Linked DNA regions of Homo sapiens. The protein of the gene in region 1 purifies or fractionates together with the protein of each later gene. This does not show direct contact. Each region holds a gene or a part of one and is shown in the gene's direction. Other genes may lie near its edges.

Evidence for each region. The genes of interacting proteins can lie anywhere in the genome.
Region 2: the proteins of NUP42 (region 1) and MKRN2 purify together in Homo sapiens (affinity purification with mass spectrometry; 2 studies listed by BioGRID and IntAct, with this or other methods). This does not show direct contact.

What each region holds. Positions count from the first base shown.
Region 1 is NC_000007.14:23,192,042-23,199,077, forward strand, and holds part of NUP42 (nucleoporin NUP42), read left to right. Parts: intron 1-3,797; coding exon 3,798-3,874; intron 3,875-4,638; coding exon 4,639-4,725; intron 4,726-5,131; coding exon of another isoform or gene 5,132-5,206; intron 5,207-7,036.
Region 2 is NC_000003.12:12,567,051-12,574,086, forward strand, and holds part of MKRN2 (E3 ubiquitin-protein ligase makorin-2), read left to right. Parts: intron 1-1,824; coding exon 1,825-1,953; intron 1,954-3,020; coding exon 3,021-3,202; intron 3,203-5,018; coding exon 5,019-5,323; intron 5,324-7,036. UniProt on the Homo sapiens protein: E3 ubiquitin ligase catalyzing the covalent attachment of ubiquitin moieties onto substrate proteins.

The sequences.
Region 1 (7,036 bases):
TCACAGAGGTAACTACTACATTTTAGTATATTTCTTTCGAAACATATACACACACAAACATATTTCTTGTTTATGTATACAATTGACCCTTGAACAACATAAAGTTTAGCGGCACTGATCCTCTGTGCAGTCAAAAATCCACGTATAAGCTTTGACTCCCCAAAAGCTTAACTACTAATAACGTACTGTAAGAGAAAAGAAAATGTTAAGAAAATCATAACGGATCAGGCGCGGTGGCTCACGCCTGTAATCTCGGCACTTTGGGAGGCTGAGGCGGGTGGATCACAAGGTCAGGAGTTCGAGACCAACCTGGCCAATGTGGTGAAACCCCATCTCTACTAAAAATACAAAAAAAATTAGCCGGGCTTGGTGGTGCATGCCTGTAATCCCAACTACTGTGGAGGCTGAGGCAGGAGAATTGCCTGAACCCAGGAGGCCGAGGTTGCAGTAAGCCGAGATGATGCCACTGCACTCCAGCCTGGGCAACAGAGCAAGACTTCATCTCAAAAAAAAAAAAAAAAAGAAAAAGAAAATCATAAGGATAAGAAAATATATTGACCATTCACATAGTGGAAGTGGATCATCATAAAAGTCTTCATCCTTATTGTCTTTATGTTGAGTAGCAGAGGGATAGGTGGGTGTGGTCTTGCTGTCTCAGGAGTGGCAGAGGCGGAAGAAAATCCCTGTACAAGTGGCCCCTGTACAAGTGGACCCTGTACAGCTGTGTGTACAGTTGACCTTTGAACAGAACTGCAAGGGTCCACTTGTACAGGGATGTATAAGTTGTTCTATGTGTGTATATATGTATACCTATGTGTCCGGAATTGGTGGGTTCTTGGTCTCACTGACTTCAAGAATGAAGCCACGGACCCTCGCGGTGAGTGTTACAGTTCTTAAAGACATCGTGTCCGGAGTTTGTTCCTTCTGATGTTCAGATGTGTTCGGAGTTTATTCCTTCTGGTGGGGTCCGTGGTCTCGCTGGCTCAGGAGTGAAGCTGTGGACCTTCGCGGTGAGTGTTACGGCTCTTAAGGCGGCCCGTCTGGAGTTGTTTGTTCCTCCCAGTGGGTTCGTGGTCTCGCTGGCTTCAGGAGTGAGGCTGAAGACCTTCGCGGTGAGTGTTACAGCTCATAAAGGCAATGTGGACCCAAAGAGTGAGCAACAGCAAGATTTATTGCAAACAGCAAAAGAACGAAGCTTCCACAGTGTGGAAGAGGAGCTGAGCGGGTTGCCACTGCTGGCTGGGGCAGCCTGCTTTTATTCTCTTATCTGGCCCCACCCACATCGTGCTGATTGGTTCATTTTACAGAGAGCCAAGTGGTCTGTTTTGACAGGGTGCTGATTGGTGCGTTTACAATCCCTGAGCTAGACACAAAGGTTCTCCAAGTCCCCACTAGATTAGCTAGATACAGAGTGTGGACACAAAGGTTCTCCAAGTCCCAACCAGAGTAGCTAGATACAGTGTTGATTGGTGTATTTACAAACCCTGACCTACACACAGGGTGCTGATTGGTGTGTTTACAAACCTTGAGCTAGACACAGAGTGCTGATTGGTGTATTTACAATCCCCTAGCTAGACATAAAGGTTCTCCAAGTCCCCACCAGACTCAGGAGCCCAGCTGGCCTCACCCAGTGGATTCCACACCAGGGCCACAGGTGGAGCTACCCGCCAGTCCCGCGGTGTGTGCCCACACTCCTCAGCCCTTGGGTGGTCGATGGGACTGGGTGCCGGTGGAGCAGGGGGTGGCGCTCCTCGTGGAGGCTCAGGCTGCTCAGGAGCGCACGGAGGTGAGGGGGAGGCTCAGGCATGGCGGGCTGCAGGTCCCGAGCCCTGCCCCGCAGGGAGGCAGCTAAGACCCGGCAAGAAATCCAGCGCAGCGCCGGTGGGCCGGCACTGCTGAGGACCCAGCACACCCTCCGCAGCCGCTGGCCCGGGTGCTAAGCTTCTCATTGCCCGGCAGGGCCAGCCGGCAGCTCTGAGTGTGGGGCCCACCAAGCCCACGCCCACTCGGAACTCCAGCTGGCCAGCAAGGGCCCTGGGTAGCTCTGGTTGCCACTCGCGCCTCTCCCTCCACACCTCCCTGCAAGCTGAGGGAGCCAGCTCAGGCCTTGGCCAGCCCAGAAAGGGGCTCCCACAGTGCAGCGGTGGGCTGAAGGTCTCCTCAAGTGCCACCAAAGTGGGAGCCCAGGTAGAGGAGGTACCCAGAGCGAGTGAGGAATGTGAGGGCTGCCAGCAAGCTGTCACCTCTCACCTATACATATATACGTATACATATATATGATTAGGATCATAATCTAGTTTTTCTTTGTTTTTTGTTTTGTTTTGTTTTTTTGAGACAGAGTTTCGCTCTTTGTTGCCCAGGCTGGAGTGCAGTGGCGCCATCTCAGCTCACTACAGCCTCGGCTGGCCTTCCGGGTTCAAGCGATTCTCCAGTCTCAGTCTCCCGAGTAGCTCGGATTATAGGCATATGCCACCACGCCGAGCTAATTTTGGTATTTTTAGTAGAAACAGGGTTTCGCCGTGTTGGCCCGGCTGGTCTTGAACTTCTGGCCTCAGGTGATCCACCGGCCTTGGTCTCCCAAAGTGCTGGGACTACAGGCGTGAGCCACCGCGCCCGGCTGTAATCCAGTTTTTTTTGTTTTTGCTTTTGTTTTTGTTTTTGTTTTGAGACGGAGTCTCGCTTTGTTGCCCAGGCTGGAGTGCAGTGGCGCAGTCTTGGCTCACTGCAACCTCTGCCTCCCAAGTTCAAGCAATTCTCCTGCCTCAGCCTCCCGAGTAGCTGGGATTACAGGCTCATGCCACCACACCCGGCTAATTTTTTGTATTTTTAGTAGAGAGGGGGTTTCACCATGTTAGCCAGGATGGTCTCAATTTCCTGACCTCGTGATCCATCCGCCTCAGCCTCCCAAAGTGCTGCAACTACAGGCGTGAGCCACCGTGCCCGGCCCTAGTTTTATATTCTAATTTTTGCTTTCAGTTTGTCTCTGGTACTAAAAATATTAGAATGAACACCCTTATACATAGCAACCTTTGTTTACATATATAACTATTTCCCAAGGTTAAATCCTATAAATTGTATTATAAGTCACAGGATATGAATGTTTTTCAGGCTTGTGATGCTTATTAACAATTATCCCTCCCAGAAAACTTGTACCATTTTAATTCCCTTAACGGTAATTTAGGAAATGATACATTTCACCACATTTGGAACAACAGTAAATACCAGCTTTTAAAATTTCTGCCAGTCTGATAAGTAAAGCATTTTATCTCTATTTTAAGTTGCATTTAACTTTATTTCATTTATTTACTATTTGATTTTTTTTGTGTGTGAATTGCCTGTTCATTATCTTTGCCCAAATTCATTTACTTTTCTCATTTATTTGTAAGAGCTATTTGTACATTAGGGCATTAGTTCTTCTCTTGTCATATATGTTAAAATTGCAATTTTCCTAGTGTACCATTTGCCTTGTAATTTTGCTTAGTATAGTTTCTGGCAGAATTTTTAAAATAAAAGTTTGAATATAAATGTAGTCAAATCTTTCTCCTGTGTTTGTTGTTCATTCTACGCCACTTATCTTTAGAAAATCTTCCCCATTTAAAGATCAGAATAACCAACTATATTTTACTGTAATTTTACACTTTATTAAACATTAAGTAGAGTGTAGGCTTTAAGTTTCTTCCTCATGGTTATGAAAATTTTCTAATCAACATTAGATATTTTCTTGTTTAGCACCTCTAGCTTTACTATCAAAATTATTGGCATTTATTTTAAAGATTCCGATTGATTCCTCACTTCAGGTTTTACAGACATTTCACCAGAGGAATTGAGGCTTGAATACCATAACTTCTTAACCAGCAATAACTTACAGAGTTATGTAAGTTTGTTTCCTATTAATCTACTGCAATAACAGATGAGCTCTTAATTACTGCTTTCTTTATCGTGGCTTGTGTTTTGGCAAAACCGATGAGGTCTATGATCTTTTTTCAGGAGTAGGCTATTTTTCTTTTCTATATTATTTTCATTGAATTTGGTTGGTTATTAAAATGATAATATATTTTTACTTTAATAATTAGGAATATTACTATTTTTATTATAAATTACCCAACAGTCAATCCCAGAAATGAAACCCTTTTATCATTTGACAGATATTTATTGAACATCTGTTAGGTACCAATCCAGTGATGAATGCTAGAAAAACAAAGTTAAATAAGATACAGTCTGTAATACAGATTAACATCCTCATATATCAAATATCAAAAAAAATTAAAAATCTTGACTAGAATAAGTTGAGTACCTGAAGGAAGCAGTTTAAATGCTGTATTTTTCTGTTTCTACAGTCATGATCATGCATTTCAACTAGTACATGTATTCACCGCCCATCCAAATATAACTAACTACGTGCTGCCAGGTACTTGTGATACTAACCAGATGATACAAGGAGTTGAACGGGAGAGGGAACTGGAGCTGGCATATCTTTGACAAATAGGCCAAGTCAATGCAAATTTTGCAAGTCATGGGCCATAAAACTGTTACATAAACCTTTTGTGATTTTGGCAAAGAAGTATGTGAAGTTTTTATTGAAGAAACTAACTTAAACATACAATATTGAACTGTTATTTTTCTGTCTTCCGTTTTCAGCTAAATTCTGTCCAACGTTTAATAAATCAATGGAGGAACAGGGTAAATGAACTGAAAAGTCTAAATATATCAACTAAAGTAGCTTTGGTGAGTATGGGAGAGTTTTCTTGAGGGAAGTGTCTTACCTATTGCTTTTTTGCAGAGGATATTTTACTTTAGATTTGGAAAGCAAAACAAAAATTTTCTATCAAGAATTATGATACACACATTCCCAAAATAGCATCACTTAAGAGTCAGGGTCTTGAAATAGTTTTCTCTGTGTTCCTTGGTCAGAAAAGCAGAAATAGTTATGCTTTTTAAAAGCTTTTTAGGGTAAAGTTTTTAACTTTGGTAGTGCTAGTTTTGAAAATGGCAAACTATTACATAAGTTTAAGTATTTAAGGTTATCTGTATGTAAAAAGAAATTACTTTGAACAGTTATATGAATGCACATTTAGAATGTAATGTATCGTTTTGCGACTGAAGAACACAGTATGTTCCTTGTCTTAAACAGAAATGCCTTTGGAAGATATATACCCACCTGTCTCCAAAGATCTATGGTCCCGACTGTGGCAAGTTCATTATCTTTGTAAATAAAGTTATGATGTTTCTACACCCATTAAAAAGTTCTTAAGAATTTTATTTTAAAATAAGATATTCACATTTATAATTTTAATATTTCCAATTTCTCAGATGGTTTCTACTCTGTATAAGGATATGAGAGTAATGTCTCCCTACACTTAGTGAATGGTTGACAGTCCCAACACCCCACCCCTTTCTTAAATATGTGCTTCCTGAATAACTAGACTCTTGTGCAAGCTAATTTCTTTCATCTTTTAGTTCTTGTAATGCTATTTGAATTTAGTGGGACCTCTTGGAAGTAGTCTGTCCTTGTGTGAGAGGTGGCCCACCATCACCATGGATGAGAGCTGATGGAGAAAGGATAACTGAGTCCAAAGAACTGTGGAACTTCCCTCAGGGCTGGAAGGTCCCTGCTCCTTGCTAACTGCCCAGGGCCCCTTCCATAGGTTAGAATGTGGGACAACCCACCCATAGCTGACTTAACATGTATCAGGAGTTCATGCCTTCTTTATACTGAATGGTAACCCATTGTATGGATATAATTTGTTTATCATCTGCCTGTTAATGAATATTACACTGAGGGAGAGAAACCAGACCAAAAAAAAAAAAATAGTGTAGACCATGTGATTCCATTTGTATGAAACTCTGGAAAAGACAAGTCTCATTTGTAGTGATAGAAAGCAGACAGAGTGGTTGCCAGGGACCAGGAGCAAGAATGCTTTTGAGGGCTGGGTGCAGTGGCTCACGCCTGTAATCCCAGCACTTCGGGAGGCTGAGGCAGGCGGATCACAAGGTCAGGAGTTTAAGACCAGCCTGACCAACATGGTGAAACCCGGTCTCTACTAAAAATACAAAAATTAGCCAGGCATGGTGGCACACGCCTGTAATCCTAACTACTCAGGAGGCTGAGGCAGGAGAATCACTTGAACCCAGGAGAGGTTGCAGTCTCAAAAACAAAAGCATTCTTTTTTTTTTTTTTTTTTTTTTTTTGAGGCAGAGTCTCACTCTGTCACCCAGGCTGGAGTGCAGTGGTGCCATCTCAGCTCACTGCAAGCTCCGCCTCCCGGGTTCACGCCATTCTCCTGCCTCAGTCTCCCGAATAGCTGGGACTACAGGCACCCACCACCACGCCCAGCTTTTTTGTATTTTTAGTAGAGACGGGATTTCACCATGTTAGCCAGGATGGTCTCGATCTTCTGACCTCATGATCCGCCCGCCTCAGCCTCCCAAAGTGCTGGGATTACAGGCGTGAGCCACCACACCGGCCAAAGAATGCTTTTGAGGCTTCCAAATGAAAGAAATCGCTTATGTTTGCTTTGGATGATTAAGAAAGTCTTCTTGAAAGGAAGGAGCAAATACAAAGTTCCTTGAAAGTAGGATTAAGATTTCAGTAAGCAGAGATGAAAGACATTTCTAGAGCACAGAACAGCAAGAACATAAAGTACTTTCAGGGAATGGGAAATGTTTAATGGATTTTTAGTCATAAGCTTTTAATTATATAATAGTGGATCTACTTCGAGTATTAGACTGGGTATTCTATAAAGGTCCTTTTTACCTAATATCTAGATTTCTTGATAAATGCAGATCTACCCTTATAGACACTGAAAAAAATTTAAAAATATTTTTCTGATTATAATATCTGCTCATTGTAGAAATTTAGAAAGTATAAAAAAGCATAAATAAAATTTAAATCACCTGTAATTTATCAGCCAGAGATAATCACTGTTAACTTACTAATGTACATTTTTTATGCATATTCATATTACTAGTTGTGATTATACTGTTTATACAGTATTATGTCTTATCCTTTTCAACATCATATTATGGGCATTTTCCA
Region 2 (7,036 bases), on another chromosome or scaffold:
TTCTCCTGGTTATAGGTCACATTATTTTCTGCTTTTTGGCATATCTAGTAATTTATGATTGGATGCCAAGCATTGTGAGTTTCTGAGCATTTGGATTGTATTGTCTTCCTTTAAAGTTTGTTTTGGCTGACAGTAAGTTATATACTTGCTATCAGCTTGTGTTTTTTTTTTTTAAGCCTTATTAGGGTGTGTCTAAAATACTTCTACTCTAACACTAGTTTACTTTTTTTTTTTCTTTTGTGAGACAGGATCTTGCTGTCACCCAGGCTAGAGTGCAGTGGCACAATCATGGCTACTGCAGCCTTGAACTCCTGGGTTTAAGCAATCCTCCTGTCTCACTCTCCTGAGTAGCTGAACCACAGGTGCATACCACCATGCTAGGCTAATTTTTAAATTTTAGGGTCTCCCTTTGTTGCCCTGGCTAGTTTATCTTTTTTTTTTTTTTTTTTTTTTTGAGACAGAGTTTTTGCTCTTGTCACCCAGGCTGGAGTGCAATGGCGCAATCTCGGCTCACCGCAACCTCCACCTCCTGAGTTCAAGCGATTCTCCTGCCTCAGCCTCCCAAGTAGCTGGGATTACAGGCATGCACCTCCACTCCTGACTAATTTTGTATTTTTTTTAGTAGAGACGGGGTTTCTCCATGTTGGTCAGACTGGTCTGGAACCCCCGACCTCAGGTGATGCGCCCGCCTTGGCCTCCCAAAGTACTAGGATTACAGGTGTGAGCCACCACACCCAGCCTAGTTTATCTTTAATATCAAGACATGTTCATCTAGGGTCTCTACTGTTTGAGTATTCACTCAGGTCTCTCTACCCTGTCTGGACAGAGTTAGCCTCCCAGGTATTCCTGTACCACTTATTCTTCAAGGCCAGGATCTGATATCTCAGTGGAATATTCTGATACAGAACATGTGATACATCTGATATTCTGAAACATCTGAAACAATGTATGAGAAACAGCTTTCATTAAAAACTACAAGTACCCATACAACCTTTCTGTTTCTCACTTTCAGTACGGTGTTCAATAAATTGCATGAGATTATTCTACACTTTATTGTAAAATAGATTTTGTGTTAGATGATTTGGCCCAACTGTAGGCTGATGTAAGTGTTCTAAGCATAAGTAAGGTAGCCCAGGCTGAGCTAGGAGAATCGCTTGAACCCGGAAGGCAGAGGTTGCAGTGAGCTGAGACTGTGCCATTGCACTTCAGCCTGGGTGACAGAGAGACTCCATCTCAAAACAAAAAACAAAAAACAGTGGCTTTATTGGGATGTAACTCCATCATTAGTCAAGGAGCATCTGTGTATATCTTTTGATACCACACTATGGTATTTGATCCTCACCACGACCAGTTAAGTGGGTAGTATAATCTTCATTTTATAGGGAAAGGTAGCAAGGCCCAGGGAAGTTGGTTTTGTGACATGTTCTTAAGTGGCAGAGCTGGGTCTTGAGCCCAGATCTTCTGGTTTCGTTAGTCATGCCCTTTAAGCTCCTTGAGAACAGAGAGAACAGTTTTTCACAGAGTGTTTTCTCAATTATGTGGCTCACATTGAACATATCTCAAATCAGGAAGATATATCTTCACATAGAAATATATGGGATCATTTGTTTTTCTTTCAGAAAAGCTGTCATTGAATCAGTTGTAGTGCCTCTGAAATCACTGTTGTAGAATCAAGGAAATATATAGATCTCTCTCCAGTGCCTAATAGAGCCTTTATACATAATATATGCCTGGTAAATGTTTGTATGCTAAGTTCAAGAATAAGCTGATTTTATAAAGCAAAATGTGCTTCTAAAAGTTGTATGCCTGTGCTTGTCTCTGCAGGTATTTTATGCATGGTGTGTGTCGGGAAGGAAGTCAGTGCCTATTCTCACATGACTTGGCAAACAGCAAACCGTCCACCATCTGCAAGTACTACCAGAAGGGCTACTGTGCCTATGGAACTCGGTGCAGGCAAGGACTCTGCAACAGATTCCAGCTGTGACACTGATTTCATTTGGAGAATGGGTCTTGATAAGGGGGAAATTTTAATGTAAAAGTAATATGGCAACATCACAAAAAGTATGGCAAATAAGTTTAAAACCTCAGTTTCAGTACCCTAAAACTAATTTTCTTTTCTTTTTTTTTTTGAGATAGAGTCTCTCACTGTTGCCCAGGCTGGAGGGCAGTGGTGCGATCTCAGTTCTCTGCAACCTCCGCCTCCAGGGTTCTCCTGCCTCAGCCTCCCAAGTAGCTGAGATTACAGGCATCTGCCACTACGCCTGGCTGATTTTTTTTTTTTTTGTATTTTTAGTAGAGATGGGGTTTCACCATGTTGGTCAGGCTGGTCTCTAACTCCTGACCTCGTGATCCTCCCGCCTCAGCTTCCCAAAGTGCTGGAATTACAGGCGTGAGCCACCGTGCCTGGCCTAATTTTCATTTTTTAAAACTACTTTTCAGCCTTATTCTTATGAATATATAGTTATAAAATTGTACACAATTCCGGAAACTTGTTCATGCTTTTGTAGCAAAGAGCCGATCTTTTCTTTCTAGACTGCAAAGCTTCCTTCCCTCCTTTTTCTCTGCAGTGCAGTGGGAGATGATGGAAGTAGGCCCACGTTGGTCTTCCCCTGTCAATGAGTGCCAAGAGAGACAGTCAGGGAGAGATCATTGGCCCTTGTCAGCATTTTGGGGACTCCTGCTCAAAAGAATACTGGGTCAGTCAGGCATCAGGAGATTTTAGCTCAACATCTGTTTGGAACTTTCAGGTTCTCTGTGTGGTCTGGTGCTGTGTGTCTGTCCCACTCAAGTCCCACAGAGACACTTAAGCATAGGTGATAGATAGCAAATGTCCCCCTCACAATGAATTGCCAAGCATCTGTTAATAATCGATAATCCTGTTAGAGTTTAAATATTGGAAAAGATGGCCGCCTTCTTCACCTCAACAAGTGCAGCAGAAGGAGGGCCATTGGCATCTGGGGAGTGTGGGAGATGTGTGTGGGTGGCATGTCTGTAATGCATCTGCTGTGTGTTTTGTTTAGATATGACCACACGAGGCCCTCTGCTGCAGCTGGAGGTGCTGTGGGCACCATGGCCCACAGTGTGCCCTCCCCAGCTTTCCACAGTCCTCACCCTCCTTCCGAGGTCACTGCATCCATTGTGAAAACTAACTCACATGAACCCGGAAAGCGTGAAAAGAGAACATTGGTTCTTAGAGACCGAAGTGAGTAAGCGGAAGCCTTTTGTTGCGTCTTTTTGCATAGCACTCTTGTTAATGCTTGGTGCTCCTTTCTAGCCTCCTCTTGTCAAGAGGACTCCTAACCTAATACACCTCCAGATTGTCTGCGCGGAGAGACTTCAGAACTGTTCTGAAGAGGCTCCATGTGGCTGCAGATCATTCAAATGATACATTCGCCCTCGTGCCCAAGGCTGGGTTGAGCTCCAAGACTGGCCTGGTAAAACATAAAAACACAATCTTTTTGTCAACATGTAACTTCCATCTTCATATGGTGGTTGTCCAGCTGGTGAGAAGCATCAAGCTCTTCATTTCAAACGTAAATATTTTGTCTGGGTAAAGTGGCTCACACCTATAACCCCAACACTTTGGGAGGCTGAGGCGGGTGGATCACCTGAGGTCAGGAGTTCGAGACCAGCCTGGCCAACATGGTTTAGTAGAAACCCTGTCTCTACTAAAAATACAAAAATTAGCCGGGTGTAGTGGCAGGTGTCTGTAATCCCAGCTACTTGGGAGGCTGAGGCAGGAGAATTTCTTGAACCCGGGAGGCAAAGATTGTAGTGAGCTGAGATCACGCCACTGCACTCCAGCCTGGATGACAAGAGTGAGACTCCCTCTCAAAAAAAAAAAAAAAAAAAAGAAAACTAAATATTTTGCTAAAGAGCATGTTTCACTGTTTGACTTTTAGGCCAGTGAATGGTCTTAGTTTTTATGCTGACAGTGTTTGACAGTTTAGATTGCACCTTTGGGAAAAGAATAGCACACTAGGGTTTGGGGCATGGTCTGTGCCTTAAAACAGGGTTTGATGAGGAAGAAAGCTACAAATTGTAAAAGTTTTTTTGTTGTGTTTTTTGTTTGTTTTGTTTTTGTTTTTTTTTTGGAGATGGAGACTCGCTCTGTCGCCTAGGCTGCAGTGCAGTGGCATGATCTCCACCTCCCGGGTTCAAGGGATTCTCTTGCCTCAGCCTTCTGAGTAGCTGGGAATACAGGTGCCCACCACCATGCCCAGCTAATTTTTGTATTTTTAGTAGAGACAGTGTTTCACTATGTTGGCCAGGCTGGTCTCAAACTCTTGGTCTCATGATCCGCCCGCCTCGGCCTCCCAAAGTGCTGGGATTACAGGCAAGAGCCACTGCACCTGGCCATAAAAGTTGTTTTTATTGGCTGGTCCTCACCAGGTGAAGAGATTTCTAGTTCTTGGAATTGGCTACCATGAGGTAGGCAGATTCTGTCCTCAGCAAATGAGTAATCCTGTGAGAATACGTGACCTCTAAACAAGCTCGGAGGTGTGCAGTGGGAAGGCAGCAGCTCCTGGCGTGAGAAGGGGTGACCATGGGGCAGTTTACACTGGCCTCAGGACCCACAGATTTGCTCTAGACATCTATTCTAGTTCACTTAAAATGATTTTACCTTTGCTGGTATGAAGGAAACACTGTGTTCTAGTGCTCTCACTGTTTTTTTGTTTGTTTTAGTGTTAACTGGTCCATGTGTTAACATTTCCATATTTGCCATTTTAAACGGCTTTAGTGTTCTTTTGTATAAGTATATCCTATTGTTTTGCTATTTCCCTGTCTTGCCATTTTTGTTTTTTGTTTTTTGTTTTTTTAAGTAATTATAAGTAATGTCACTATGAACATTTTATACTATTCCTTTTATTTTTCCCCTTCGGTGTGTTTTTTTTGCCATATGTTCTCAAGAGTGGAATTCTTAGGTCAGAGTAGCTTAATATGTTAGGCTTTGGCTAACGGCATACCAGAAAAATGGGGCCATTTTCATGTGCATGTGTGCTGTGTGTTGTTTTCAGATCTCTCTGGCATGGCTGAAAGGAAGACCCAGCCGAGCATGGTGAGTAATCCAGGCAGCTGCAGCGACCCCCAGCCCAGCCCCGAGATGAAGCCGCATTCCTACCTGGATGCCATCAGGAGTGGCCTTGATGACGTGGAGGCCAGCAGCTCCTACAGCAACGAGCAGCAGCTGTGCCCCTACGCAGCTGCTGGGGAGTGCCGGTTTGGGGATGCCTGTGTCTACCTGCACGGGGAGGTGTGTGAAATCTGTAGGCTGCAAGTCTTGCACCCATTCGACCCAGAGCAGAGGAAGGCTCATGAAAAGGTAAAGTCACAAACCTTTGCATGAACTCATGTTAAGAAATCTGAAATGTACTGAACAGGACACGGAAGGCCATCCATATACACTCAAGAAATCTGAAATGTACTAAGTGACAGAATTGTTGGTATTTCCACAGGCATCCCCCTGCCAGTAATACCCATATTATGTATCTGGTATATTTACATCCTGTTTTCAGGTTCTTTTTCCTGCAGTCATTTTGCCATTTTTTTTTTTTAATGGAGTCTCCCTCTCACCCAGGCTGGAGTACAGTGGTGCAATCTCGGCTCACTGCAACCTCTGCTTCCCTGGCTCAGGTGATCCTCCTGCCTCAGCCCCACCGAGTAGCTGGGATTACAGGCGCCCACCACCACACCCGGCTACTTTTTGTATTTTTAGGAAAGATGGGGTTTCACCACGTTGGCCAGGCTGGTCTCGAACTCCTGACCTCAAGTTGTCCGCCTGCCTTGGCCTCCCAAAGTGCTGGGATTACAGGCATGAGCCACCATGCCCGGCCTATTTTGCCAATTTTTAATTACTCAGAATAAAGAGAAAAAGAAGTCGTATCTGAAATATAAAATCATGCTAAGTTCAAAGAACAGATCTAGCTCAGGACCATGGTATGTCGTCTGTGTGTATGTCTCTATCACATGCAGATACAGCATCCTCCCTCCCTGGGTTCACACTTCCTCATGGTTGGGATCCAGCTAGGTGAAGTTTTGGAAGATTTGAGCCCAAATCATAGAATCTGAGGAGCCACTTGTTGGAAGGGCCTTTTAAAGTCATTAATGTCTGCAGTGTTTTGGGAGGCTTTGCCTTATGCTAGGCCCTATGCATGATGCAGAGGGTACGAAGCTGGATAAGAGGCGGGGGAGGGCCAGGCATGGTGACTCACACCTGTAATCCCAGCACTTTGGCAGGCCAAGGCAGGCAGATTGCTTGACCCCAGGAGTTTGAGACCAGCCTGGGCAACATGGTAAGATCCCCGTCTCTACAAAAAAAAAAAAATACAAACATTAGCCAGGTGTGGTGGTGCACACCTGTAGTCCCAGCTACTCGGCAGGACTGAGGTGGGAGGATCACCCGAGCCTGGGAAGCAGAGGTTGCAGTGAGCCAAGATTGTGCCACTGCACTACAGCCTGGGCAATAAGAGTGAGACCCTGTCTCAAGAAAAATAATAATAAAAAAATTTAAAAATGCCAGGTGTGGTGGCTTGGCTAACTTTTAAAATTTTATTTTATTTTGGCTGGGCACAGTGGCTCACGCCTGTAATCCCAGCACTTTGGGAGGACGAGGCAGGCGGATCACAAGGTCAGGAGATTGAGACCATCCTGGCTAACATGGTGAAACCCCGTCTCTACTAAAAATACAAAAAGTTAACTGGGTGTGGTGGCGGGCGCCTGTAGTCCCAGCTACTTGGGAGGCTGAGGCAGGAGAATAGTCTGAACCCAGGAGGTGGAGCTTGCAGCGAGCTGAGATTGCACCACCGCACTCCAGCCTGGACGACAGAGAGAGACTCTGTCTCAAAAAAAAAAAAAAATTATTTTATTTTTCAGAGGTGAGGTCTTGCTATGTTGCTTAGGCTGGTCTTGAACTCCTGAGATCAAGCAGTCCTCTTACCATGGCCTCCCAGAGTAATGGGATTACAGGTGTGAGCCACTGCACCTGGCCTAAGGCATGTTTAAATGGACAGCGTATTCCTAGATAATCAAGAGGTAA